Homo sapiens: one gene and its partners. The protein of the gene in region 4 interacts with the protein of the main gene of each other region in a pairwise test. Each region holds a gene or a part of one and is shown on either strand. Other genes may lie near its edges.

The links.
Region 1: the proteins of AHCYL1 (region 4) and JOSD2 interact in binary tests that used the Homo sapiens proteins (3 or more experiments, as listed by UniProt).
Region 2: the proteins of AHCYL1 (region 4) and SOX30 interact in binary tests that used the Homo sapiens proteins (3 or more experiments, as listed by UniProt).
Region 3: the proteins of AHCYL1 (region 4) and PSMD9 interact in binary tests that used the Homo sapiens proteins (3 or more experiments, as listed by UniProt).

What each region holds. Positions count from the first base shown.
Region 1 is NC_000019.10:50,508,182-50,515,657, forward strand, and holds the start of JOSD2 (josephin-2), read right to left. Parts: upstream 3,011-7,476; 5' UTR 2,936-3,010; exon of another isoform or gene 2,894-2,935; intron 2,268-2,893; 5' UTR 2,251-2,267; coding exon 2,105-2,250; intron 1-2,104. Other genes in the region: ASPDH (aspartate dehydrogenase domain-containing protein), read right to left, coding at 3,549-3,592, 3,955-4,109, 4,179-4,399, 4,480-4,629, 4,746-4,830, 6,310-6,920. UniProt on the Homo sapiens protein: Cleaves 'Lys-63'-linked poly-ubiquitin chains, and with lesser efficiency 'Lys-48'-linked poly-ubiquitin chains (in vitro). May act as a deubiquitinating enzyme.
Region 2 is NC_000005.10:157,649,422-157,657,229, forward strand, and holds the start of SOX30 (transcription factor SOX-30), read right to left. Parts: upstream 3,018-7,808; 5' UTR 2,658-3,017; coding exon 1,691-2,657; intron 1-1,690. UniProt on the Homo sapiens protein: Acts both as a transcriptional activator and a repressor. Binds to the DNA sequence 5'-ACAAT-3' and shows a preference for guanine residues surrounding this core motif. Binds to its own promoter and activates its own transcription.
Region 3 is NC_000012.12:121,884,826-121,891,806, forward strand, and holds the start of PSMD9 (26S proteasome non-ATPase regulatory subunit 9), read left to right. Parts: upstream 1-3,964; 5' UTR 3,965-4,031; coding exon 4,032-4,169; intron 4,170-6,981. UniProt on the Homo sapiens protein: Acts as a chaperone during the assembly of the 26S proteasome, specifically of the base subcomplex of the PA700/19S regulatory complex (RC).
Region 4 is NC_000001.11:110,015,744-110,022,764, forward strand, and holds part of AHCYL1 (S-adenosylhomocysteine hydrolase-like protein 1), read left to right. Parts: intron 1-600; coding exon 601-717; intron 718-923; coding exon 924-987; intron 988-1,751; coding exon 1,752-1,840; intron 1,841-2,202; coding exon 2,203-2,273; intron 2,274-2,629; coding exon 2,630-2,724; intron 2,725-2,808; coding exon 2,809-2,907; intron 2,908-3,131; coding exon of another isoform or gene 3,132-3,176; exon of another isoform or gene 3,177-3,307; coding exon 3,308-3,376; intron 3,377-3,804; coding exon 3,805-3,883; intron 3,884-4,987; coding exon 4,988-5,108; intron 5,109-5,930; coding exon 5,931-5,937; coding exon of another isoform or gene 5,938-5,983; 3' UTR 5,984-7,021. UniProt on the Homo sapiens protein: Multifaceted cellular regulator which coordinates several essential cellular functions including regulation of epithelial HCO3(-) and fluid secretion, mRNA processing and DNA replication.

The DNA of each region.
Region 1 (7,476 bases), on a different chromosome or scaffold from region 4:
AGTCCCTGTCCCTCCGCCAGTCCCTTCCTCTGTCCTTCAAGGCCCACCTCAGATGTCACGTCCTCTGAGAGGAGCCTCCTGACCTCCAGGCTGGATCGGGGCCCTGTCTGGGCTCCCCCAGTGAACTGAGCCACCTCAACGATGACAGCTGCCCGCATCACCCTGATTTAACACTGCTTGCTTCTCCCACGGGGTTGCCCTCACCCCTCCCCTGCTCACAGCCCACTCTGCTGCCTCATTTCCCCCAGGACAGAGTCCCACAAGGCCCTGCGTGGTCTGGCTCTGGTGGCCTCACCTCAGAGCCTCAGCACCCTCCTTCCTGGTCCCCTGTCCCCAGCCACATCCCCGGTGCCCACCGCCTCCCGCCCCACCCCCGCCAACCTTTCCTCCAGCTCTTCCCCTGCCTAGGAAGGCTCTTCCGCCTGTCACCACTTGTCTCTGGGCCCTGCCTCTGAACAGCTGCACCTCTGTTCCCTATCTGGACCCTGGGCAGGCAGGACATGGGAGGAAAACGCTCGTGTGTGTGTGTGTGTGTGTGTGTGTGTGTGTGTGTGTGTGTTTCCCTCACCACCCTTAGGCTGGCACTTGTGTCTGAGTCATCTCAGGGTCTCCAGCATGGCTTTTGTATGAAAGAGCTGATGGGTCCTTGTTGCGAATGATAGAGGAGATGACTAAATACCATAATAATCAGTCTGAGGGGCTGGGACTCTTAAGATGTCCGAGAGCCGGAGGAGGCTTGGAGCAAGAGGCAGGGGAGGCAGGGCCATCTCCAGGTGTAGAAAGACTCTCTAGGATCAAGTGGGGACTGAAGGCAGGGACAGACTGGAGGCCATGGGCAGGCTGGGCAGGAGAGGGTCAGGCCTGAGCTGGGGCCAGGGACATGGGGACAGAGAGGAGGGAGTGAGAGATGGTAAAGGAGTGATTTTTTTTTTTTTTTTTTTTGAGACAGTCTTGCTCTGTTGCCCGGCTCACTGAAACCTCTGTCTCCCAGCTTCAAGCAATTCTCCCACCTTAGCCTCCAGAGTAGCTGGGACTACAGACATGTGCCACCACGCCCAGCTAATTTTATTTTTTATTTATTTTTATTTTTTAGTAGAGACGGGGTTTCGCCCTGTTGGCCAGGCTGGTCTGGAATTCCTGACCTCAAGTGATCCACCCGCCTCAGCCTCCCAAAGTGTTGGGATTACAGGTGTGAGCCACTGCGCCCGGCCAAAGAGTGATGTTGGACATTGTGAATAGTGAAGAGGAACATTCCATGCTGGCAGAGAAGGAAGCCATGCCGGGCAGAAAGAAGTACCTGGAAGCCCAGAGGCCGCACAGAAGGGCTCACGGGAGTGGAGAGTCTGGTTTGAGGGGGGCCGTGAGGGCTGAAGATGCGGAGGCAGGCTCGGCCTCCGCTATGAGGAGGGCCCTGAGTAGGGCGGGGGCGTGTTTAGGATGGACTGGAGAGCTGTGACAGGGCCCAGATAAGAGATGCCTGAAGCTGGGTGAGCCTGTAATCCCAGCTACTGGGGAGGCTGAGGTGGGAGGATCACTTAAGCTCAGGAGTTCAAGACCAGCCAGACCTTGTCTCTAAAGAAAGAACCACTGGGCCGGGTGCAGTGGCTCACGCCTGTAATCCTAGCACTTTGGGAGGCCGAGGCGGGTGGATCACGAGGTCAGGAGATTGAGACCATCCCGGCTAACATGGTGAAACCCCGTCTCTACTAAAAATACAAAAAATTAGCCGGGCGTGGTGGCGGGTGCCTGTAGTCCCAGCTACTCGGGAGGCTGAGGCAGGAGAATGGCATGAACCCGGGAGGCCGAGCTCGCAGTGAGCGAGATCGCGCAACTGCACTCCAGCCTGGGCAACAGAGTGAGACTCAGTCTCAAAAAAAAAAAAAAAAGAAAGAACCACTGGATTGAGGTCTGGCTGGGGCTGAGGCCACAGGGACAGACAGGCACAGGAGGCAACATCTCCCCAGAGTCCCAGCGTCTAGCTTAGGCAAGTGAGCGCGGAGCAGAAGAAAGCCCCCAAGGCTCAGCGCCTGCCTGGCGGCGAGACCCAGGTGGGTCACTCCGCCAGAGCTCTGCTGCTCCAGGGGCTGGGGTGGGTGACGGTCACCTCTTGCAGATCTCATCGGCAGCCTCCTGGCTAAAGAGCTGCTGCTGCAGAACGTTGTTGAGGGCGTGGACAGCACACAGCTCCAGGCGCTGCCGTTCGTGGTACACGGTGGGTGGGCTCGGCTGTGCTCCCGGGGCCTGGGACATGCCGTCCTCGGCTCCTGCTGGGGGTTGGGAGGGGGAGAAGGTCCTCAGGGGCCCGGGATCTAGAGGTCCAGCCTCCCAGCAGGCCTTTGGGGCATCGCCATTGATTGAGCTGGGACTCGGAGCAGCCCAGGAAGACACTGGGCCCCTGACCCCGCTCCCTGGCAGTCTCCTGGCAGCACACGTCCCTCCATCCCTTATTCCTATTCCTACGAAAAACGCTGTCTCTTCTGCTCCCCTAGCAACAGAAAACCACCCTCACCAGGTCTCTAAGTAAAAGGGTCCCTATCATGGTCACCTAGCAACAGAGGAACCTGCCTCCCCGTCCCTAGGTAACCAGGGCGCTCTGTGGTTACCTAGCAACAAAGCCCCCTCCCCACCGCACTAGGTAACAAAGTCTGTCCTCCGAGCACCTAGCAATAGAGAATCCTCCTCCCCTGTCTCTAGGTGATAGGGTCCCCTCTGGTCTCCTAGCAACAGAAGACTCCCCTTCCCCGGTCATGTAGCAGCGAGGCTCTCTGCTCTTGTCACCTGGCAACGGGGCCCCCTCCCCAGTCACTAAGCAACAGGAGTTCCTCTTCCTATCACCCAGCAACCAGGCCCCCTCCCCGGACACCAAGGAATGGAGCCCTTCGCCGACCCGCACCCCAGCCACGGCGCTCGCCCTTTGCCTGGCAACGCCCCTCACCCCGCCTGCCTCTCCGCTCCACCGAGCCAGGGGTTTCCGCATCCCCTTCCTGGGCGGCGGCTCTGGGCTCCGAGTGCGGGGCGGGCAACACCGCGCTGACTGGGCAGGCGGGACGGACTACAGCTCCCGGTGATCCCCGCGCGCCGGACTACGACTCCCGTGGGGCCCCGCGGGACTCCTGCTCCACACGGAACGCCCGGGCCGCGTGGCCCTGAAGTCGGCCGTCGGGCCTAGGAAATGCCGCACTACAACTTCCGTCGGGCTCCGCGGCAGGTCCCGGAAGTGCGCCTCAGAGGCCCTTCTTTCGCATACGGCCGCGCCCACTACTGCTCAGAGATTCTAGGAAACTTAGTAGGTAGGCTCTCGCGATAGCTTCCTGGCGCCGCGCTCTCATGGGTGCTCGCCCCCGGCGATGGCGTCATGCGCGGTGCGCAGACGCAGCGTGACGTCACACAAGGGAAAGGGATCAGAGACGCCAGGCGGTGCGGGGGGAGGCAGCGGTGATCTTTACTGAGTCAGAAGGGAGACCCTGGGGAAGTGGGGCAGGGCAGGGGTGGGATGGTGGTGGTGAGAGGCCAGGCAGATGATCTTGTCTCGGGAGGGAGGAGGCTTCTCAGCAGAGATGGATCCCCGGCCTGGAGGGGAGCTGGCAGCAGGCTGCGGGGAGAGGGGAATGAGCGAATGAGACAGAGGAGAGATGAGGAGACAGACGCCTGGGGGAGGCAGTGGTGGGAGGAGGGGACAGGGCAGGGGGGCGGTGGAGGAAGACCCGGAGAGAGCGGGACAGAGCCCTGGGGGTGGACAGAGACAGAGAGAGTCTCGATCAGAGGCGGGCACAAATGGAGACATCTACAGTGCCAGGATTCAAAGTCATGGAGAGAGGTTAAGGAAATAAAGGTCAGAAAGAAAGAAAGGTCAACAAATACAGAACCAGAACTGCAGAACTAGTGAGAGCCCGGGACCCCCAAGCTCTGCAGAACACAGGAGCCCAGGGCCGGGGGAGAGGGGCCTGGCCGCACCCAGGAGGCTCTGCCAGAAGGCCGTGACGGTGGCGGAGCCGGTGACCGCGCCTGGCTCGGCAGGGTTCTCTCTGCGGGTGTGCACAGCAAAGCTTCGGCCCGTGGGGCCCCGGGGTCCGCTCAGCTCTACATCCACCACGTGCATGTCCGTGAGGCTGGGACAAGAGGGGCAGTCAGTCTGGAGAGCCTGGACTCAGCCCAACACCCTGCTTAGCTCTGCTCACCTGGTATCAGCCACGAGCACCCCAATCACCCCATCGAAGCCCAGGCTGGGGGCAGCCAGGGCAGCCGCCGCCATGGTGTTGGAATTTCGCGGGGCAAAGGGGCAGAGCCCACGGACAGGGCCTTCGTAGAGCACAGTGCAAGGCCCAGGGCTGTGGGCTGCAGCCAGGGGTCCCTCAAGCCGGAAGCCATCGGGGTGTGTGGCCATGGTGACACGAAGGCTCTGGAAGCAAGAGCCCGGGTTAGGGGGAGTGGGGTCTTTGCAGGCCTCCCCTGGTTCCTGGGGAGCCCAGCAGGCCTCACCCGGAGGCCCCCAGCTGCATCCAATCTCCTGATGTCCTCAGCGCCCCACAGGGCCCCTCGGGCCACAAACACGGCGTGGTCCCAGTGCTGTGAGGCCTCCAAGAGCTGCCGCTCTGTGGTCTGGTCACTTAGAGCTGAGGGGGACCCCACCTGGGGTGGATGAAGGAGGGGAGGGTTGAGGTCAGGGAAGGATATCCACTTCAGGGTGGGGTGAGACCAAGACAGAAGGGGCAGGGCTCTGCGTAAATGGTTGGGGTGGGGCTTACCAGGAGATTGGCATGGCGCAGGATTTGTGCCCCAGATTCATGGATTATTTTGGGATGGGCCACTTCCACAACCAGATCAGGGCGCCTGGGAGAGGGGAAAGAGGGCGGAGGGTCTTGGAGAGGTATTAGGCCTCTTCTCCCCAAGGTTCCCTCCGAGTCTACTGAGGGCTGCCCTTCTTCTCCCTGACCTGGGAGGCGAAATGAGATGAATGGGTTCGTCCTGTTTCACATTTGCTTGAACCAAGGCCCAGAGAGGGTCAGGGAACCCCTGAGATCACACAGTGGCTAAGAGAGCCAGGACAGGAGCTTCAGGGAGCTCCACTCTCCCATGGCAAGGTCACTGACCTTTCCCCAAGGGCAGCAAGGTTCTGGAGCTGCAGGGAAGGGGGCACGCTCCCTGCCATTCGTCCTGGGTCACGATTCCAGACAAAAACAAGTTCTAGGCCAAGTTCTGGTCCCTGAGCCAAGAGGCGGGAGACGAGGGACTGTCCTGGGGAGAGGGAAAGGAGAGGGCTAGAGATCCAGAGAGAGGGGGACAGAGACCCAGAGAGAGAGGAGGTGGGGACAGAGACCCAGAGAGAGAGGAGGTGGGGACAGACTCAGATTGCGGGGTAGGGAGACAGAGATGGGGGCAGGGCAGAGACACAGTGGGGTGGACAGAGGCCCAGAGAGAAGGGAGACAGAGACGGAGAGGACAGAGACCTGGGGTGGGGGTGCAGTGGGCAGACCCAGAGACACAGCCAGGGGCAGATAGAGAGAGAAAAAAGTGTTTGTGGAGGGCAGAGAGTCTTGGGAGCTTTAGGAAGGGGTTTGGGGAAGGAGGCCAAGGATGGTCAGGGACTCACCGAGGCGGCCATAGCCCACCACGCCCACCCTCCACGGGCCCCTGTCGGCCATGGCCCTGAGTGCGGTGTCTGGGGCCTGGCTCCCTGGGCTGCTCGCTGCCCGCTGCACAAGGCCTGGGCAGCCGCTGCTCTTTGGACATCTGACCCTTGAGCCTCTGGGCTCAGTCTTCCCCCTTCCCCGCAGGCCCAGCGTGGGGGCGTGGGCCTGCGGGAGTGGAGGCGGGAGAACCCTTCCCTGTGCTCTGTCCACTTTCCCGGGTCCAGCACAGTGAGCATGGTGACCGGGGGTTCTGGGAACCCTGCGTGCCCCCCTTTCCCCTGCAGCACACCCTCTTTCTCCCTGCTGATGTGGAAAGTTTCCTCTGCAGTCCCCTGCCCCCTCTCTGGCCGGCCAGGTTGTCATGGAAACTGCATCTTGCTTTGGGTTGGGAGAAGAGATGGTGACAGGGACTCTGGGCTCTGTCTGTCCCCTCGTGCTCACCTCTCCTCCTTGTCCTCAGGCGGCTAAGGTCTGAGGGAGGCTTCAGCCTGGCCGTGGCCCTAGCCCTCCCAGAGGCAGCGGGAGCCCTGGTTGTGGCTTCTCCTCAATGTGCCCTTGCCTCAGCGGGTCCAACCTCCCTAGCCCCGCTGCGCAGCACGGGTCCCCTTCCCACAGCCTCCGCCCCTGTCCACAGCCTCCCTCCGCTCTGATCATCCTTCAGTTCACCTTGACTTGCTACCTTTCACTCTGTCCCCCATCGTGCCACCAGCTGCCTCCAGTGTGACGTTCTCGCTCCCACGTCCGTCCCTCCCGTTCCCCAGCTCGCGTCAGCCCAGGAGAAGCCTTCGAGGCCTGGAGAGGCCAAGTGCCCCCAACATGAGCCCCAGCCTCTGTGCCTTGAGGGTGCCTGGCATCGGAAATGGCGCAGGCTGCGGCAGCGCAGGCTCCCTGCCCCCAGCCACCACCTGGTACCCGCTGCAGTGTTTCCATGGCAACCAGGATTGGCGCTGGAAGGAGGCTGGAGAGAAAGAGAGCGTGAACGGGAGCATGGGGTGGGGGGGGCGGGCACTGGGTGGCGAGAGCCCCAAGTTGACGGGAGGAGAGAGGAGACAGACGCGGGCAGACAGAGAGGGGCCAAGACCCCGACGTGGCACCCAAAGGCTGCCGCTGCTGATAAGGGAGGAATTGGCTTCCAGAGCCAGGAGCCCCCGGTGTGGGAGAGATGAGATGCCTGGGTGTAGACAGAGCCAGGAAGGGGGCAGGGGCCAGGCACCTCACGGAAGTGGGGGGCCTCCCGCCATCTCTACCTTCTGACTCCTGCTGGGGCCTGAGTGTCCCCATAGTGCCCATAGCTGCCGTGTACGGGGTACAGCCTGGGCCACTACGAGGGGAGAAGGGGGCTGGGCGCAGGCCTGTGTGTCCTCAGGGCTGTGTCCCCGAAGCCACCTCAGCGTGGGAAAGCACTGGAAGGCCCTGCATGGCTCCGTCCCTCCCTCTGCCTCCCCCAGCAGCGTGAGATGGCAGCCCTGGCCAGCCCCAGCCCTCCAGGGCCTGCAACTCGGGCACCTTGACCCCCCAAGAGACATCACCACCCCCTCCCCCAACCCACCCAACAGCTGCCCACTGTGCCAGCAACCCCCCAGCCAGGCCCGCTCAGGGTTTGCTCCCTGCCCTCCCAGGGCTCTGCTCCTGCCCTTCTGAGTGGCACTGTGGTGCCCCTGCCGCCCCAGGCCCACCCGATCCGGCCCTCCAGCCTCCCACTGAACCGGCCAGAAATACAGCTGCTGTGCCCCAGAGGCCGCAGGCCCAGCCTCCCGCTTGGCCTCCCTCCCCTTCGGCACCCCGTCCTCTGGAGCAGCCTTGAGGGGGTCTGCAGTGGAGAGACACACTCTGGATTGGGCCCTGT
Region 2 (7,808 bases), on a different chromosome or scaffold from region 4:
GGTGAAGCTCTTACCAAGTGGAATCATCAACACTAGTCCTGTGTCCTGGGAGAAAAATGAAAGAAAACAATAAAAATAATTTTTTGGGCCAGGTACGGTGGCTCACGCCTGTAATCCCAGCACTTTGGGAGGCCAAGGCAGGTGGATCACGCGAGGTCAGGAGTTTGAGACCAGCCTGGCCAACATGATGAAACCCCATCTCTACTGAAAATACAAAAATTAGCCAGGCGTGGTTGCTCATGCCTGTAGTCCCAGCTACCTAGGAGGCTGAGGCAGGAGAATCGCTTGAACCCAGGAGGTGGAGGTTGCAGCGAGCTGAGATCACGCCACGGTACTCCAGACTGGGCAACAGAGTGAGACTCAGTCTCAAAAAAATAATTTTTTGAAAGTCACAGAAGGCAGGTAAAATGGCTCACACTTGCTTCTGACCTTCATTCCTAGAACCTCTCTGCCAATATTTCAGAAAAAAAATGACAGAAAATAATAAAAGTAATTTTTTTGAAAGTCAGAGAAGGCAGCCACAATGGCTCACACCTGTAACCTCAGTACTTTGGGAGGCCAAGGCGGAGGACTGCTTCATCCCAGGAGTTCGAGACCAGCATCTCTTTTTCATAAAATAAAATTTAAAAAAAGAAAGTCACAGAGCCAGTTGAAATTTCAACAAAGGAAGTTATCTAAATTCACATCTCTCATGTATTTTATCAAAAATAACTGTCCATAAATTTATTATATTATTTTAGGATTACTTCATATATTAAAAATTTCTTAAAAACACTAAAGATGAAATAAGTAGTATAAAGAAAGCTTTCCCTTTCTTTCCTTTAGAAAACAAAAATAAAATCTAAAAACTACTAAAGATAAAAGCAACAGGGTGGAGTGGAGAGGAAGAATCAACACAGAAAATTAAAAAAACAATAAAACATAAAGTTAATAAAAATATGAACCAAAGATTAATATGACTTTCCAAGATGTTCATTGGCAAAGTGTTCTGTGTGAACTAAATCTTAAAATAAGAATTTGCTAACTATATATCTGGAAATACTGAATAGAAATAAAAACATTATTTGTACTTGTTACTGCTGCAACTAGTCATTTCTTTAAAAATAATATTTATGGCTCATTCTACTGTATTCTTTTCAATATTTCTATAAGTCATTACCTTTCAGAGGAATAAACCCTAAAATATTACATTGAATCACGTATTGTTTTCTGCTAGAATATTTATTATTCATTTTTAAAGATAGCCTCTATAATCGGTATAAACTTTCCTGTTTAATTATAATCACTTTTTTCATTCAACACCATTATTTCTTCTATTTCTTGATACATATAAAAGTACTGAGCTGTTATACTACAATATTTTTAATCTTGATTATTTGTAGCATATAAACTGAGGGCTATGCGCTGTCTAGCAAGAATATTTCTATTTTTGTGTACAAAAATTAGTCCTATCTAAATACTGGGCCTTAAAATCGATTTTTTAAAAAATACTTGAGAATCTTGAAGGCATTCGTGTATTTTACTGCTATATGTACAAGTCGATCAGAAGTGATACCTGTGCAGACTCTGCCCTGAAAACAATCAGTTCCATTACTTTACTTTTGTAGTTTAGACTTGGGAACTGCTGACAAAACAGCTATGGGCAACACAGACGCAGTTTTGAAAACCCGACTCCCCTGCTGTCTAATACCTGCATCTGAGGGCAACACGGTGAGCGGGACATCTTTGGTTTCAATTTTTACAGAAGGCTCCAGTAGGGACTGCATTTTAGTAGGCACTGGTGTCAGGGGGACCTTGGTCAATCTTATCAGCTCTGAAGGCGGAGCTCCCTGAAACTGGATCCGGGCCCCAGGGGGGACCGTGTGGAGCGTCAAAGGGATCCTAAGGTCTTGCTGGTGCGGCCCAAAGGCACCGGACGTTGGGGCCAAGATGACCTCCGCGCTGCCATGAACCAGGCCATTGGACGCGGGCTCCGCGCCGAGCCTGCAGTCCTCGAGGAGTCTCTCGGGTTCCTCCGTTTTGATCACACCTTCTCGGATGGCTGCCGGGCTTTTGCCTGCCCCGCCTTGCATCGAGTCTCTCATGACCTCCTCCGCCTCCAGCTTGCCCTTCTCGTCCCCTCGGAAGTAGCCGAGGGCCGGCCCGGGGCCTTCCAACTTGACCACCCTGGAGGCTCTAGGACCGGTTTCGACGGCCCCTCGAGGCCCCACTGACTGATCCAGGCTGGGCCCCAGCTTCTGCTTCTTGGCCTTGACATGCAGCGCCAGGGGCTGCACCGGGTGCAACTCGGGCCTGGAGGTGGCGCCGTCTGACGCTGTCGGCGGCTGCAGGAGCCGCAGGTCGGGCCTGAACTGCAACAGCCGCGCCTGCGCGGACGAGGCAGCGGCTTCCTCGTTCTGGGCCTGAGGCTGTGGTAGCAGCAACACCTGCTCTGGCTTCACCTGCAGCAGCCGCCGCACCGCGGGCTGTAAGCCGGACGCCACTGCCTCCCCGCACGACGAGGCCAAGGTCGCACTGGCTGCCGCGCTCAGTGTGGGAGACGACGGAGGGGGCTCCATGGCTGCTGCCCAAAAGGAGGTGCCCTCGACCGGCAGCGGGGGCGGAGCGGGACGCAACGGGCGCGGCTGAGGCGGCGGCTCGGGTCTGGCTCTCTCCATGGGGGAGGGGGACGCCCCGGCCAGGATTGTGAGCTCAGCCGTTTGTTGGCGACCTTCCCCCTCCCCCTTTCGGTTAAGAGCCTTGCAAGGCCTTTGCTACCCAGAACCCTACGCGGTTCAAAACGCAGCTGTCTGTCTGGGCCTCACCCAATCACAACGACCGATACCCGTGGACGGCCAATCACAGGCGGGTTTTCCGGCTCTTCCTGGTCCCTACTCTCGCCTCGTGCTGAGTCCTCGAATCACCTGCCATGGTAGGAGCCGCCGCACTTGTTGCACATTTTCGTTCTGACTCTCTTGTGGAGTTCTCTTACAGCCGTTGTCTTTAGTCATCCCTCCCCCACCCGGAGCTGCGACAATGGCGTTGCCCAGGAAACGTTGCGCTTCCAGGCCGCTGACATCCAGGGAATGAAGTCTTGCGTCACAAGGGGAGCGACGGCCTTGTGCACGCGCTCTGTGCGGCCTGAGTAATCTGTCGGCCCTGAGTACCACCAGGGCTTTTGAATCTTTGCCAAGGGAGAATGGGGAAGATTTTGCAACTTATCAATAACCTATTAGCTAATGTTGCTGGGGAGGATCTTCGACTTTGTGTGATTATTGTGCTAAAGTTTCAATTAATCACCAGGCCCTGTGGCCCTACTTCCAAAATACTATACATCCCAAATTCATCCACTGTTTTGTGTCTCTACCTGCCATTATCCTGTTCCAGGCTCCCAGCATCTTTCACTGGGATACTGCCGTAACCCTGTAAATAGTCTCCCTGCTTGTCACCCTTGCCCCACTACACTCCAGCTGCCAGTGATCTTTCGAAAACGCAAATCTAAGGTTGTCACACTTTTCCTAAACTTTCCATGGCTCCCCACTGATAATGTAATGAAAGTCTAAAATTCTTAGCAAAGCCTTAAAAATCCCCCAGTGGCTTGGGATCTAACCTCCTACTACTGCTACTATTAGATTGGTGCAAAAGTAATTGTGGTTTTTGCCATTAAATAGTTATTGAGTCTTTGGGTTTCAGCCACATTGGCCCCATCATCATTCTCTTTCTACTGCAGGGTGTTTAAACATGCTCAGCATGCTACTCTTTCCTTTGTGTCTCCTTAATTCCTCCTGCACATTTTTCATATTGCAGCTCAACTGGGACTTCTTCAGAGAAGCTTTTACTGACTCTGAAAATCAGATAAAATCTTGGTCTACTTATACCTCTATCACTTGGTTTGCTTACCACAATTTGTAATTAGAATTTTCATGTGATGATTCCACTGCCTCTCCCACTTTAGACTATAAAGTCCTTGAAGGCAGAACAGTTTGTGTTTTGCCCATCACTGAATCCACAATGCAGACCATTGAGCCTGGCATATAGTACTCAATAAATACTTGTTGAATAAATAAATGAATAGCGACTGTGATAGGGTAATAATAAAATAGTAATAATCACTACCTGTGTTAAGGGCTTACTCTTATGCTAGACACTGTTCCAAATCCTTTCCATGTTTATGTTTCTCCTTTTAGTAGGATTGTGTTTATTTCCATTAAACATCACCAAGAAAAACAAAAAGAAATCCTGTATTAACATTTGCTGCATTTCTAAATGACATTCTGGCCAAAAACTATAGTTTATCTTGACGTAGATGATTTTTGCAATCAAGACAAGTTATCACTCAAAGACCACTCCAATTTATTGTCCAATCCTCTGGTAACAAATGTGGTCAGTAGGAGTTCTTATACCTGGCAGATAGACAAGGGCAATGGTTTTCAAACTTTTATCTCAAGAACTCATTATACCCATAAAAACTATTGAAGATCCTGGGCTGGGCGTGGTGGCTCACTCCTGTAATCCCAGCACTTTGGGAGGCTGAGGCAGGCGGATCACTTGAGGTCAGGAGTTCGAGACCAGCCTGGCCAACATGGTGGAACCTCGTCTCTACTAAAAATAAAAAATTAGTTGGGCATGGTGGCACATGCCTGTAATTCCAGCTACTCGGGAGGCTGAGGCAGGAGAATCGCTTGAACCTGGGAGGCAGAGGTTGCAGGAGCCGAGATCGTGCCACTGCACTCCAGCCTGGGCAACAGAGCAAGACCCTGTCTCAAAAAAAAAAAAAAAAACTATTGAAGATCCCAAAAAAGCTTTTGTTCATGTGGATTTCATCTATCAATATTTACCATGTTGTAAATAAAAACAAATTTTAAAGATAGCAACTCATTTAAAACGTCAACAATAAAACCATTCTGTGGTAACACATTTTCATAGGAAAAAATTATATTTTCCCCACCTTATGCTCACAAGAGAATGAAGTGAAAAGAGCAAATATTACATTAGGATTATTATGAAAATAGTTTTAACCTAGCTGACTCTGTAAGTGTCAGTCCCCATACCACACTTTGAGAACCACTGTACTAGGGTTTAAATGGGAGAGGCAACTGTATGCATGAGCAAAAGCTGATAAAAGAGGCAAATAAGTTGTCAGAGGTGTGTGAACCAGAGCACCTCCATCTTGAGTAGGTGCTGGGTAAAATGAGGCTGAAACATACTGGGTCGCATTCCCAGACAGTTAAGGCATTCTAAGTCACAGGATGAGATAGGAGGCTGGCACAAAGTACAGGTCATAAAAACCTTGCTGATAAAACGGGTTGCAATAAAGAAGCTGGCTAAAACCCACAAAAACCAAGATGGTGATGAGAATTACCTCTTGTCATCCTCACTACTACACTCACACTGGCAGCATGACAGCTTACAGATGCCACTGCAATGTCAGGAAGTTATCCTATATGGTCTAAAAAGGGGAGGCATGAAAAATCCACCCCTTGTTTAGCTTATCATCAAGAAATAACCATAAAAATGGGCAACCAGCAGCCCTTGGGGTTGCTCAGTCTATGGAGTAGCCATTATTTTATTCCTTTACTTTCTTAATAAACTCGCTTTCACTTTACTTTATGGACTCGCTCTGAATTCTTCCTTGTGCGAGATCCAAGAACCCTCTTTTGGGGTCTGGATCTGGACCCCTTTCCTGTAACTTCTTTCTGGTGACCCAGGTGGGATTATAGTGTGTAAGCCCCCAGTAAGTGGTGAGGTCCTGTAACATCTTTCTGGCAACTATGGAATGGACTGCAGTATGGAAACCCCGACCCAAAGGCTAACTTTGGGTAAGTGGTGGGGTCCGGTAACATCTTTCTGGTGAACCCTAAAGGGACGATACTTAGGAGACTCCTGACTCAAAGGAAATAGACTATAGCACTGATTGGACAATTTTGGATAAGTGGTGGGGTACCCAGATAAAGAATGGGATTGGGTTAGAAGCCCAACTTAGGAGGGTTAGAGTCCCTTCTAAGATTTAGGGGGCTAGAAGCCCCTCTCGGTAAAGTCCCCTTTGGCTAAGAACAGGTTTGGCACTACGGTATGTTAACTTCTATTCTCCTTGGAATAATCTGCCTTGTACTCTTTGCTGATGGATGCGGATGACAGGGTTAGGCAGGTACAGGATCATGGGACATGAGGAGCTTTTTCCTCCCGTAAAGGGGAAACTTGAGAGTCGATGGGACTGCTGGAAAACATCCCTTCACTACCGAGAAGTGGCCACCTGAACTCTTCACTGTCGCTGCAGTGGGTGGATCTTTCTGTGGCTTCCCTGAACGCCTGGCCTTCCCCACCTTGCCTCAGGCAATGCTGTCGTCTCTCTCTGTGCAAACTGGTTGTAGGAATGGTAAAAATCACTATTTCTTACAAAGTTTTGATTAATGGAAGAAAGGATTTGTGAGGCTAGTCTTAAGCTGTAGCCAATCTGGTGTGTTTCCTGTGTCATTCTGTATTGTTCTGTCATAAAGAGGGGTACCTTAGGATAGAACATGGGCTTAGGACACCTATAAGCCTGCTGTTCAAGATGGCCCAGCAAACTGGTCAGTTAAAAACTTTGCTGCAGGTCCGTGAAAAAAACTGGATGAGGTTTCCCTCTTGTCTTGTATGTCCTTGGGAGCTTGACCTTGTAACCATGTGGCTGTGCTTTCTCTTTCACAGTGGTGGCCCGGGTTCAGGGTTCAATTCCCATCTTAGGAGATGAGTCCTTTATCTTTTGTCTGTGTATTTATGTGTATCATGTGTGTGGTGCTTGTATATAACAGAGGTTTGATTAATCGGTTAAAAATAATAAGTGCTTCAGTCATATTTTTGTGAGAAAAATTAAACATATAATGCCTTTTATATAGTTCATGTGACTTAAGTAATCTTTGGGAAATGAAGACAGTTTTAAAGATTATTGGTAAAATAAAAATATCTTAAAATGTAAACATTTGGTCTAAATTATGCAGGTCAGATATTAGGTTTGCTAAATGCTTTAAGTTCATAAGCTGCTGCTTTCACTTTTGAAAATTGTTTAATTTACCTACTTTGACCATATTAGAGTCTAGATAAGGCCTGGGGACATGTGATGTTAGCCATACCCCAAGCAATGCTAGAAAAAGTCAGACCTTATCTGCACTTCTGTCTGTGTCCTAGGCTGCACACCTAGTACATAATTAAAATGCTTACCAACCAGGGTTTTCACCAAAAGTAAAAATCGCTGAAAGTTAACATTGTAACATGTAATTGAGACTACTGAAGAATAGTTCTACACATAAGGTGTGTAAGGAAAGTGAAATGTGTTTTTGGTAAAAGATCATTAGAAGTCATGAGAATGTAAATTTTCTTCCTTAGATTAAATGGTTAAATTATTGTTTTAAGTTAGATAGAATGAAGCTGAAGGTTTAAGAAAGTTTTGGAAAGTGTGAAAAATTAATTGTAGGACATTCTGTGTGTGAATATATTAGTTAAAGTTAAAGGGGTATTCAGTTTTTCTATAAATTAAACATTGGAATAAAAGCACAAGTTTTTTTAGAGCAAAAACCTGCTATGATTTGCTCTTTAACAAAAATATGTAAAGGGTTATAAAAGGTTTGTGAGAATCTTACCTTATAGTCAAACTGATTAAGATTGAATACATTTGTCTATAAGGTTTTATAAAGAATTGGGTTTGTCATCAATAATGCACTAATGCAAGAGTCACATTTGGCTTATTTGGTACAAAAACCACACAGGAAGCATTATCAAATGTAAAATGGTGTTTGGATTTTTGGGGGCTGTAATTGTATAAATGTATTATTGGTATATATTGAAAATTATTT
Region 3 (6,981 bases), on a different chromosome or scaffold from region 4:
CAGAGTCACCAATTATTAACATTTTGCCGTATTTACTTTATCTCTCTCTTGTCTACAAATATATATCTCTTTCTTTTTCTTGAGACGGAGTCTCACTATATGGTCCAGGCTGGAGTGCAGTGGCACGATCTCGGCTCACTACAACCTCCACCTCCCAGGTTCAAGCGATTCTCTCCTGCCTCAGTCTCCCGAGTAGCTGGGATTACAGGTGCCTGCCACCACGCCCAGCTGATTTTTGTATTTTTAGTAGAGACGGGGTTTCACCATGTTGGTCAGGCTAATCTCAAACTCCTGACCTCAAGTGATCCACCCCCCTCAGCCTCCCAAAGTGCTGAGATTACAGGCGTGAGCCACCATGCCCGGCCTTACATATATATCTGTATTTTTTTTTTTTTTAGATGAAGTCTTGCTCTGTCGCCAGGCTGTAGTGCAGTAGCACCATCTCGGCTCATTGTAACCTCTGCCTCCCGGATTCAAGTGATCCTCCTGACTCAATCTCCCGAGTAGCTGTGACTACAGGCATGAGTCACCACGTCCAGCTAATTTTTGTATTTTTGGTGGAGACAGAGTTTCACCATGTTGGCCAGGATGGTCTCCATCTCTTGACCTTGTGATCCGCCCACCTCGGTGTCCCAAAGTGCTGGGATTACAGGTGTGAGCCACCACGCCCGGCCTATATCTGTATTCTTTTCTGAACCATTTGAAAGTAAATTGCCTCTCTTAACCCTAAATACTACAGGGTACTTTTTCTAAGGGCACTGTCTTACAAAACCACAGTGAAAGTATCAAAATCAGGAAATTTTCAGATATCAAGGGTGGGAGGATATTACAATTTTTTTAAAAATCAGGAAATTTGGCCAGGTGCGGTGGCTCACGCCTGTAATCCCAGCACATTGGGAGGCTAAGGCGGGTGGATTGCCTGAGGTCAGGAGTTCTAGACCAGTCTGGCCAACATGGTGAAACCTTGTCTCTACTAAAAATACAAAAAAATTAGCCGAGCATGGTGGCATACGCCTGTAATCCCAGCTACTCGGGAGGCAGGGGAATTGCTTGAACCAGGGAGGTGGACGTTGCAGTGAGCCGAGATCTCGCCACTGCACTCCAGCCTGGGCAACAGAGCCACCACGCCCGGATAATTTTTGTATTTTTAGTAGGGACAAGGTTTCAGCATGTTGGCCAGGCTGGTCTTGAACTCCTGACCTCAGGTGATCCAGCCGCCTCGGTCTCCCAAAATGCTGAGATAACAGGCGTAAGCCACCGCACCTGGCCACATATTGCATTTAGTTTTTTTTTTTTTTTTTGAGATGGGGTCTCACTCTCTCGCCCGGGCTGGAGTGCAGTGGCACGATCTCTGCTCACTGCAAGCTCTGTCTCCCAGGTTCATGCCATTCTCCTGCCTCAGCCTCCTGAGTAGCTGGGACTACAGGCACGTGCCACCATGCCCGGCTAAATTTTTGTATTTTTAGTAGAGATGGAGTTTCACCGTGTTAGCCAGGATGGTCTCGATCTCCTAACCTCATGATCCACCTGGCTTGGCCTCCCAAAGTGCTGGGATTACAGGCGTGAGCCACCGCGCCTGGCCTAGTTTTTTTTTTTTTTTTTTTTTTGAGACGGAGTCTTGCTCTGCCGCTCAGGCAGTGAGCCACCTGCCCTGGCCTCCCAAAATGCTAGGATTATAGCCATAAGCAGCTTACAAAACAGTTTTCTTGAACATGCTTATACTCTTCACGTGGATTTGCTAATTGTTACATTTTGCCTCTTTCTCCCCTTGTATCACTTTCTTCGGACCACTTGCAAGTTAGTAGCAGAAATCATGACACTACACATCTAAATAATTGAGCATTTATCTCGTTCCAATAAAGATAAAAGTGATTCTCTCATATAATTGCAACACCATTATCTGACTGAGGAAATTTAACACTGATATACTATAATTTAATATAAAGTTCATATTTAGATTTCACCAGTTGGCCCAATAAGTCTTGTAAAGCTGCTGTTTCTCATTAAATAATTCAAGTAAGGATCATGTATTGCATTTAGTCATTATTTCTCTCTTCCTCCCTTTTTAACTTTATTATTTATTTATTTATTTGAGACAGAGTCTCACTCGGTCACTCAGGCTGGAGTGCAGTGACATGATCTCAGCTCATTGCAACCTCTGCCTCCCCGGTTCAAGCGATTCTCCTGCGTCAGCCTCCCAGGTAGCTGGGATTACAAGTGTGTGGCACTGTGCCTTGGTAACTTTTGTATTTTTAGTAGAGACGGTGTTTCACCATGTTGGCCAGGCTGGTCTTGAACTCCTGACCTCAAGTGATCCACCCACCTCAGCCTCCCAAAGTGCTGGGATTACAGGTGTGAATCACCACACCTGGTCCTCTGCTAATTAATTATTATTTTTTTTTTTTTGTAGAGATGGAGGTCTTGCTATGTTGCCCAGGCTAGTCTCAAACTCCTGGACCTAAGGGATCCTCCTGCCTTGATCTCCCAGCATAATGGGACTACAGGTATGAGCCACTGCACCTGTATTTCTCTCTCTCTCTCTCTCGATAATGTTAGAAATGTTAGTTTATTTTTGAGGGGTGCGGTAGCTCACTCCTGTAATCCCAGCACTTTGAAAGGCCGAGCTGGGCTGGATCACTTGAGGCCAGGGGTTCGAGACCTCAGCCTCCTGAGTACCTGGGATTACAGGTGTGTGCCACCACACCCGGCTAATATTTTATATTTTTGGTAGAGACAGGGTTTCACCATGTTGGCGAGGCTAGTCTCAAACTCCTGACCTCAAATGATCTGCTTGCCACAGCCTCCCAAAGTGCTGGGATTATAGGCATGAGCCACCACACCTGGCCCATTGCATTTAGTTGATGCACATCTTTAGTGTTCTTAAATCTAGGCAATTGCATATCCGCCTCCTTTCTCTGTCCCCCACCCCTTATTCCCCATGTGTATTTCACAACATTGACTTTTTTTGAAGTTTTCAGGCCAGTTGTTTTGAAGTATGTCCCTTCTTTTGGATATGTCTGTTTTCCAATGATTAGATTCAGGGCAAACATGTTTGAATACTACACAGATGACCGCTGAGCCCTTTTCAAGACAAAATATTAGAGGCACATGGTCAGATATCAAAGTTGATTGTTTAGGTAAGCTGGGTTGGAATTTTGGCCTCACATTTTGCTAGTTGGGTAAATTGGTTATTGAGACGGTTTTCTCAGCTGTCAAATTGGGATGTAATAATCTAGCTTCATGAGGTTGTTGAATTAATATATGTAAGGCATTTAGAACAGCGTCTGGCACATTATAAGTATCAATAAATAAACACTGTTACCGTTATTATTATCACTACGATTTTTAGAGGCCTTAACAGGAACATCCAGCACCTTCAACAGTATATGGCTCATAGGAATCATTCCATGAATATTTGTTAGCAGAAGGACAGCTCTATGAGATAGATTGCTATCAATTACTGCCCCATTTTACAGATGAGGAAACTGAGGCCCAGAGAAGCCAAGTAGTGACCTAGGGTCACACAGATTGCCGTTAAGTGGCAAGATACGGGGTGTGTACTCAGGCATATCGGATCTGTAAAGTGAGGGATAAGGAACCTTAATGTATTTTGTAAATCCTCCAGGGCTGTGTGGATGTGAAGAACTGAATTGGAGCGCCACGCAGCGGTTCTCTGGCGTACAGTATCCATCCATACAGTAGGCGCTCAATAAATGTCTGCTGCACGAATGAGAAAATGAGTCAGCTGGGGCGAGATCATCCCCTAGCGTTGGTGTGCAATTGCGTGGGGATCCATTGCTTCCGACGCTACTCCTGCCGGGTCACCACAGGCGCACGTGTTCCGGCAGGGCGCGGCTTCCGGTGACCCAGCTCCGCCCTAAGCCCCATCCCAAGCCCCGCCCCTTGACTGTTCTCGCGTTCGCGGACGGCTGTGGTGTTTTGGCGCATGGGCGGAGCCGTAGTTACGGTCGACTGGGGCGTCGTCCCTAGCCCGGGAGCCGGGTCTCTGGAGTCGCGGCCCGGGGTTCACGATGTCCGACGAGGAAGCGAGGCAGAGCGGAGGCTCCTCGCAGGCCGGCGTCGTGACTGTCAGCGACGTCCAGGAGCTGATGCGGCGCAAGGAGGAGATAGAAGCGCAGATCAAGGCCAACTATGACGTGCTGGAAAGCGTGAGTGTGGGTTCGGGGCGCCCCAAGTCGCCTAACCCGGCCCGGAGTCCCTGGGGTACTGGGATGCCAGGGCGGCCTCAGTTTGGGCGCTCCGCAACGGATCTCCCTGGGAGGCCCAAGGCGCCGCAAGTGCGGCCTCTGTCGGCACAAGAAGGCAGGCAAAGAACTTTAGCAACTGAAGAGTTAGCCATATTGATATCCAGCAAGAGTTTGTGGAGCCCTGCTGTGTGCTAGGCGCTGGTTTAAGTGCTGTGCATTGTTGAGTTAATTTAATCTTTGCAACAACCCTTTGAGGTGGATGCTGTTACTCTTTCCATTTTAGGGAGGGGGAAACAGGTGTTACTTGGTGATTAAACAGCTGTCATGTGCCTCGCTGACTGCCTTATCTTAATTTTGTACTTTTTGTAAAGACAGAGTCTCACTGTGTTGCCCAGGTTGGTATCGAACTCATGGCCTCAAGCGATCCTTCCACCTCGGCCTTTCAAAGTGCTGGGATTACAGGCGTGAGCTACTGCACCCGGCATTTGCTGATTGTATCGTGAATTCTTAAACTTCAGTGTGTATATGAATTACCTGGGGATCTTATTAAAATGCAGATTTTGTTTGAGGCAAGGGAGCAGATTCTGCATTTGTAGCAAACTCCCAGCAATGCTGATGCTAGTGGTCTAAGGACCGAACTTTGAGTTACAAATAAGGCTCATCATCCTTATTGCATAAGGAGGAAACTGAGGCCCAGAGTGGGGCAAACGCCTATCTAAGGTCATGTAGTTCGGAAGTGGCAGTGGTGGGTCTGGCTCAAAAGCTGATGCAGGTTTTCTTATGCCATCTAGTGTAAAATCACAGATCAGTTTGCAGAGGAAGATGCAATTAATTATGCCCAAGTAGGGTGGGATGGAATGCATTTTAGGTGATGTAAGATGAAGTTTCTTTTTTTTTTGTCTGAGACGGAGTCTTGCTTTGTCACCCAGGCTGGAGTGCAGTGGCTCAATCTCGGCTCACTGCAGCCTCTGCCTCCTGGGTTCAAGTGATTCTCCTGCCTCAGCCTCCCGAGTAGTAGGGATTACAGGCGAGCGCCAGTACGCCAGGCTAATTTTTTATTTTAAGTAAAAGCAGGGTTTCACCATGTTGGTCAGGCCGGTGTTGGATTCCTGACCTCAGGTGATCCGCCCACCTTGGCCTCCCCAAGTGCTGGGATTACAGGCGTGAGCCACCGCGTCCGGCCATAAGATGAAGTTTCATACGGAGGGCCAGAGAACCATTTTACTGGGTGCTGACTATATGCTCAAAGTGGGATTCAGACTTCAGGTCTGTTACATTCAGAACCTGTGCTTTCAAGCAAATTACCAGCAATTTCTCAAACTTTAGTTTACTTTCTACCACATGCAGTATACTATATGCATATACCACTTGTGTTATTCCTTTGATATTTTTATTTAAATAGATCTACTTTTAATCTTATATAAATGTATTATTATTGTTATTATTATTATTGAGACAGGGTCTCGCTCTGTTGCCCAGGCTGGAGTTCAGTGGCACCATCTTGGTTCACTGCAGCCTCAATCTCCTGGTGTCAAGCAATCCTCCCACCTCAGCCTCCCAAGTAGCTGAGACTGCAGGTACGTGCCACCACGCCCAGCTAATTTTTGTATTTTTTGTAGCTATGGGGTCTCACTATGTTGCTTGCTCAGACTGGTCTGAAACTCCTGGGCTCAAGCAGTCCTCCTGCCTCTGCCTCCCAAAGTGTTGGGGTTACAGGCATGAGCCACAGTGCCTTGCCCATAAATGTATTTTAAAAGGAAATTTCAAAACTCCGCTGCATATGGAAAATGATAATCTCTTCTCTTAAATATAAGGTCAGATGCTTTGCATGTTGATACGGCATGTTGGTTGCTTCTGGCTAGCTGCTGTTGCTTGCTGAAAGCTTTCAGCCTGAAACCGTGCTCTATATTTGTTTTTAAAAAGTGGGTTTGGGCCGGGCCTGGTGGCTCACGCCTGTAATCCCAGCACTTTGGGAGGCCAAGGTGGGTGGATCACCTGAGGCCAGGATGGTCTCGATCTCCTGACCTCGTGATCCGCCCGCCTCGGCCTCCCAAAGTGCTGGGATTACAGGCTTGAGCCACCGCGCCAGGCCTACAAAAAATTTTTTTAAAAATTAGTTGGGCGTGGTGGTGCATGCCTGTAGTCCTAGCTACTTGGGAGGCTGAGGCAGGAGGATTGCTTGAACCCTGAATGTTGAGGCTGCAGGGAGCTATAATTGCACCACTGCACTCTCTTGTGGGTGACAGAGTGAGATGCTGTCTCTTTAAAAAAAAAAAAAAAAAAAAGGCCGGGTGCGGTGGCTCATGCCTCTAATCCCAGCACTTTGGGAGGCCGAGGCGGGCGGATCACGAGGTCAGGAGATCGAGACCATCCTGGCTAACACAGTGAAACCCCGTCTCTACTAAAAATACAAAAAATTAGCTGGACGTGGTGGCCAGCGCCTGTAGTCCCAGCTACTCTGGAGGCTGAGGCAGGAGAATGGCCTGAACCCGGGATGTGGAGCTTGCAGTGAGCCAAGATTGCGCCACTGCACTTCAGCCTGGGTGACAGAGCGAGACTCCGTCTCAAGAAAAAAGAAAAAAAAAAAAAAGACTGGGCATGGTGGCTCACGTCTGTAATCCCAGCACTTTGGAAGGCCGAGGTGTGTGGATCGCTTGAGGTCAGGAGTCCGAGACCAGCCTGGCCAACATGGTGAAACCCCGTCTCAACGAAAAATACAAAAATTAGCCAGGTGTGGTGGTACACATCTATAATCCCAGCTACCCGGGAGGCT
Region 4 (7,021 bases):
CCATTGAGTGATTCTCAACTAGTGTTGAGGGGCGGGTAGGGAATAAATGTATCTTGAAAAACTGTATTCAATATTGTATTATCATTTTATATTTGAAATATGAAAAACAATCCTATTGTAAAACTACATGTTATACACACTACAAAAAGTAAAACTGGGCAAAATATTCTTGGCTTGTTGGAATACTGAAAAGATATCTGAAAGAGTGTTTCTTGGGGGCACATTGCGCATGCTTACTCACACACACACGGAACCATATCAGAATCATTGATAGTCTTTGTTTATCAGAAGTAGGCATGGGTTTCTATTGAAAAATGCTGATCAAAGGAAATAACACTCCCTATAAAGGGAAGAGAAGTACATTTCTTCAATTGAAAGGCTTTTTTTTTTCTTCCAAAAAAGGGGTAAAGGGAGAAGAAAATGAAAAGAAGTGTGGAGGGATGACAAGGAAATAATCATGTTTTCTAATATCCTTGGGCAATAAATGAGACTGGGAAGGGCAGCATGGAACTTGAAGAGAATTAGGCAGATTTTGCCACAAATTATGTTGTGCCAGCTAACTTGGTTTTTGTTTGTTTTTGTGACCTCTTCTCTCTTTAGGCTGTATCAGCTCTCCAAAGCTGGGAAGCTCTGTGTTCCGGCCATGAACGTCAATGATTCTGTTACCAAACAGAAGTTTGATAACTTGTACTGCTGCCGAGAATCCATTTTGGATGGGTAGGTTGAATGTATATATATTCAAACTTCTAGGGGCTCTGGTCTTCCTTTGGCTTTAAAAGTTTATTAGAGGGACCATTTCATACTGAGCTCAACCAGCTTCCAATTGATATTCTCATGGGCATTGGCCCACACTTTTAACTTTGTGAAGAGGGACTGAGTTTGAGCTATTAACGTTTGAGTTGAGCCCTTGTCTGTTTCCACAGCCTGAAGAGGACCACAGATGTGATGTTTGGTGGGAAACAAGTGGTGGTGTGTGGCTATGGTGAGGTAAATAGCTGGGTCTCAGTGTCTCTTTCTTTTTGTGTACTTATTAGAAATATTGGGTAAAGGAGGCTTGTGCTGTCAATCTAGAGTCACTGATACAAGGTTTAAATTTTTTTAGATAATGTATCTCAAACAATAGCAAAAGCCTTTTATTCAGATTTATGAATAGAAACATACAAAATGAATTGAGTTTTCAGATTTTACCATTTTGCCTTGTGGAATAGATACTAGTATCATCTTCCCCAATTATAACAATAACCTTTAATGAGACTTAATTCAAGTGAATATATAGCATTTTAGCCCCACAAGTGACTTGCAGTAGAATTAAGGGTGGAATCTGAAATGGCATATAGTTGAATATCTCCAAACTGGAATAGGTCACATATTTTGTTGTCTTCAGCAATGACCCAAAGAAGTTCCTGAGCTACGAGGGTATCCTTGAGTAGATTCTTCTCAAGTAAGAGAATAGGAAATTAGAGGTTGCTTAGAGTAAGTTGCTTTTGCTTAGTCTTGTTTCCCTGATGAAAACTGCTATGCAAAGCCCCAGTCCTTCCTATGACATGTCTGCTAAATTACCTCTCTAACTGAGGTTCACAACGTAATCTGGGTCTGTTTCTGTTCTGCTTGGGATTGGAGCGTCTGTGCAGCTGCTCACCAGATGACAGGCTATTTCATGAAGGTTAATTCCTGTCTCACAAATAACCTACCTACCCTAAATATCCATGACTTAATGAACCTAACGACTTGACCTTTCTTTTGTTCTGCAGGTAGGCAAGGGCTGCTGTGCTGCTCTCAAAGCTCTTGGAGCAATTGTCTACATTACCGAAATCGACCCCATCTGTGCTCTGCAGGCCTGGTAAGAACAGAGTGATAATACTATTAGATTCACTCTAGGTGCTTTATGTTATTGAGAGTTCATAATTGAGTATATTAATCATTTTTGCAGAAATCACCTAGGGGAAGAGAAGGCTAGGACTGCTCTGTTCTTCTCACTCTAACCCTAGGGCTCTCTGAGAGCCTCTTGGCATTTTTCCTTCCTAGAGGGAGTCTTGGGGACTCTGAAGAGGCCAGTGTATATAGTTTAGCAGAGCTTATCACTCACCATTCCTGTGAGGTGGCACTGGATCCAACTAGAAGGGGATCTTGTCTCATTTCATGACCATCTTCCCTCCCACTGCCTTCTTGCTTTACTCATAGTGTTCCTTTCTTTTCTTCCAGCATGGATGGGTTCAGGGTGGTAAAGCTAAATGAAGTCATCCGGCAAGTCGATGTCGTAATAACTTGCACAGGTAAATAACTTGCATAGAGAAGTGTTTATTCAGAGGCTAAATCTTGAAAGTAGTCTGAGTGACTTTCATACAAAGGAGGTGAGACCTCTGTTCAGTATAAAGGTCTCAGAACTAGAATAAGCTATCAGAACCTTAACATGTTTTCCAGAGTAAAAAACTTTTTTCCCTGGTGACTTTTTATACTGCTTGATCTGAAGACCAGATAGCCTAAGGAGCGGTTATGCATGTCTTCTCTCAGAATGTCTACATGTTCTTTAATGCCAGCAAGCCTCTGGTCTCCTATGTTCTACCTGAAAGCCAGCCAGTACCTTTGTTGCCCGGCATCTCTTTCCTTAACCACCCATCTTTTCTTTTAGGAAATAAGAATGTAGTGACACGGGAGCACTTGGATCGCATGAAAAACAGTTGTATCGTATGCAATATGGGCCACTCCAACACAGAAATCGATGTGGTAAGGCTTCTCTCATTTGTTGCTAGGCATTTCTCTACTACCTTTCATTAATAACCATAGTCAACTGTGCTTTCTTCCTTTCAGACCAGCCTCCGCACTCCGGAGCTGACGTGGGAGCGAGTACGTTCTCAGGTGGACCATGTCATCTGGCCAGATGGCAAACGAGTTGTCCTCCTGGCAGAGGTACACACAGAGAAGGACCCTGGCAGAGCAGCACAAGCAGAGTAGTTAGATCTATGAGGGGGGAGGGGAGGGAAACAAATATTAGGCCTATGTTTCCCTGAATTTTATCTTTGGAGAGAGAGATATTTCACAAATTGGTCCCCAAAATAAAACCACTTTAAAAAAATCTACTTTTTACTAAGTAACACTATTTCCTAACCACAGCTGATTCTTTAACCTTTCAGACTCAGATGGATTTGCAGAAAATAGGAAAAAGCCTAGAGTCCTGATCTGGAACTGTAATTCTTCCTCTTCCAACTGAGTCTAGAGGGGTGTAAAGTCCTCTCCCGCTTTGGCTTGACTTGTATGCCATTGGAATCTGAGACAGAGCTCATCCCAGGGCTCTCTCTTACCTTTCCAGGGTCGTCTACTCAATTTGAGCTGCTCCACAGTTCCCACCTTTGTTCTGTCCATCACAGCCACAACACAGGTATGTGGCAAAATGCCTGCTTACACTGCACTGCAATTTGTGGAACTGGGCGTAGATCAGTTCCAGTGAGGGTGTACTGTACTATGTTCTCATCATCCTATTCTTTTTTGATGTAATAAATTGTGGAAACAGGTATTCTTAAGTATAGAAAAGAGTCACTAAGTCAGTATTCGTTGAATTGGCTGTTTTAGTTGAGAATATAATGTTCCAGCTTAGTTTTATTTGATTTGTTCTTTCGTTAGGAACTAAACAAAAACAACAAATCCTCTTAGGATGTGTGCTGCCCTTTAGTATAGGCAAAGTCCTAGGTACTGTGACTGTGGTAGATCACTGTAGTACTTACCCAAATGCTGTTTAACCTGGTTTTATTTTTATGTGCCTGTCTAAGAAATATTTTTGTGCTTTCTGGCCTTCTTTTCCCACCTTAGGCTTTGGCACTGATAGAACTCTATAATGCACCCGAGGGGCGATACAAGCAGGATGTGTACTTGCTTCCTAAGAAAATGGGTGAGTGAAAAACAGTGGAAATCTATGCAGACAGCTGCATAGTTTGGTAAAATGACTGCCATGAAAGGCATTGGATTTAGAGTCAGAGTTCCAATTCCTGTTCCTGTGCTTACTGGTTGTTTGACCTCAGGACAAGTTCTAATCTCTATGATCCTCAGTTTCTTGATTGGTAAAATGAAAATAATACTACATACATTGTAGAATTGTGTGAGAATCACAGCTAATGAGTAACAGTGCTTAACACAATGGTTTAGGGAGATGTTCTTACTCTAAGTAGCCTTATGAAGTTCAGTAAACTTCCCAGTGCAGCTGAGTACATACAGCCTTGGAACAAAATGAGAGAAACAAACACAGGTTTTATTGTCCATTTTCTGTGAGGATATGCAAACCATCCAATCTCTTGTAAGCAACCCATGCTGTGTTCATGTGACATAATACATCATCTCTAGTCCTTTGCCTTTCTGCACGGTGTACCCATCTCCCATATCTCCTTGGCTAGCCCAAATCCCTGACTTCTTAATGCTAAAATACTTCTTGCTCTCCTCTCCTCCAATAGCTTACTTCAGACTTTTTTTTCAGTGTATAATTATAAAAGGGAAGCTTATCTATGGAAAAGTAAAAATTCTGTGCCGACTACCTTAGAAATTCATGATCCTAAGATCCATGGATCTTATCCTAAATGAGTGTTATTGACACAGGGTCTTTCTAGCTTACTGGTGTCCACTTTGATTGCTAATTTGACTATAATCTAGTTAAGGAGGTTGCTGCAGGAAGGTAGGAGTAGCATGTGACATGTGGGCCACTGCAGGGAAGCCCCCTGCTTTGCCAGAGAAGGATAGAGAGGTAAAAGCCCACTCCCTTTTGTTACCCTGGTAAGTGGCTTTTCTGAACGCACTGTACATGTGCTGAGAGAAGCATCCTGCCCAGAAAGGCAGCTTTGAGGTTTTTTTTTTAATTAAGCAAATATTTCAAGTTGTGGATTCTTTCAGAGTTATTCCATCCCTTGTCTGCTTTCTTAAAAAAGCTTCAAATGAAAATGGGAAGTTATAACTTGAGAGACATTTTGAAAAGGAGTCTGCTCTCCTGCCACTTTGCTCTTCCTAGATGAATACGTTGCCAGCTTGCATCTGCCATCATTTGATGCCCACCTTACAGAGCTGACAGATGACCAAGCAAAATATCTGGGACTCAACAAAAATGGGCCATTCAAACCTAATTATTACAGGTAACCTGGGGAGAAGCAAGTGAAAAGCTCTTTTTCCCAGTATTAAACCAAGCAGGCTAGCCTGCTTCTGACATAAAGATCAAATGTTGTACCTGATTTTGAAGAATACAAGAAATCTGTTCCAGGCCAGGCACGGTGGCTCACGCCTGTAATCCCAGCACTTTGAGAGGCCTAGGCGGATGGATCACTTGAGGTCAGGAGTTCAAGACCAGCCTGGCCAACATGGCGAAACCCTATCTCTTAGCCGGGTGTGGTGGCGGGCACCTGTCATCCCAGTTACTCAGGTGGCTGAGGCACGAGAATCACTTGAACCTGGGAGGCGGAGGTTGCAGTGAGCTGGGATCATGCCACTGCACTCCAGCCTGGGTGATGGAGTGAGACTCTGTCTTAAAAACAAACAAACAAACAAAAAAACTGTTCCAGTTAACAAGGTAGATAGAGAAATTGTGGGAGATATCAGGGAGTTAGGGTTTTTTTGAAATTTTGGAGCCTGGGCCTCACCCTAAGAGATTCTGATATATTTGGTCTGCGATGGGACCAAATTTACAAAACATTATTTTGTAAAACCTCCCCAGATTATTGTAATGTTTAGTCAGGGTTGAAAAAACACTGACTCATTCCTGGGAACAGGCGGTAACACCAGAAATGGCATTGTCAGAGACCCTGTGGAAGAATAAGGGAGACTGGTGCCCTGGGGAATGACTGCAGGGATCCCACCCAGGCTGGGGAGGGGCCCTGGAGAAGGTGCTCTGTTTCCGATTGTTTTTTGGAATTCTCATATGGAAGACATAAGTGTTAACCAATCACTCTCTCTCTTTACAGATACTAATGGACCATACTACCAAGGACCAGTCCACCTGAACCACACACTCTAAAGAAATATTTTTTAAGATAACTTTTATTTTCTTCTTACTCCTTTCCTCTTGATTTTTTTCCTATAATTTCATTCTTGTTTTTTCATCTCATTATCCAAGTTCTGCAGACCACACAGGAACTTGCTTCATGGCTCTTTAGATGAAATAGAAGTTCAGGGTTCCTCACTCTAGTCACTAAAGAAGGATTTTACTCTCCCAGCCCAGAAAGGTGATTCTTTCTTTACCATTTCTGGGGACTTTAGTCTTAATTAGGTACCTTATTAACAGGAAATGCTAAGGTACCTTCTCTGTGGAACAATCTGCAATGTCTAAATCGCCTTAAAAGAGCCCATTTCTTAGCTGCTGAAATCAGTGCTCTTTCACTTCTTCAGAGAAGCAGGGATGGTACCTACCCGGCAGGTAGGTTAGATGTGGGTGGTGCATGTTAATTTCCCTTAGAAGTTCCAAGCCCTGTTTCCTGCGTAAAGGTGGTATGTCCAGTTCAGAGATGTGTATAATGAGCATGGCTTGTTAAGATCAGGAGGCCCACTTGGATTTATAGTATAGCCCTTCCTCCACTCCCACCAGACTTGCTCATTTTTCGAGTTTTTAACTAGACTACACTCTATTGAGTTTAATTTTGTCCTCTAGGATTTATTTCTGTTGTCCAAAAAAAAAAAAAAAGAAAAGAAAAATTAAGGAGAATTTTTGGTGTTAATGCTGAGGAATTGCTTGAGTGGTTAGTTGTTACCAATTTCTCTTTTGAACCTTTGGAGCTAAGGATGCTGAGTCTAGAGAAATGCTAGTCTCAAGCCCTGTTAAGTCCCTCTGTTTCTAGCCCGTAGTTCATAGCATCAGTGAACTGGAGCCACAACAGCAAATTCTATCAGCTGTGTACCATACAGCTTGTGCTGAAGGCGAATTTCTTGAGCCATTACTCAGTATAAAGCACTGAGTTCTATCTTTAGGATTTATCTTTAAGAGCAAATTTCTGGTCAGCTGTGCTTCTGCAACCTAAAATATTTAAAGGGAGGTAGGTGTGGGCAGGAGGAGGAATGA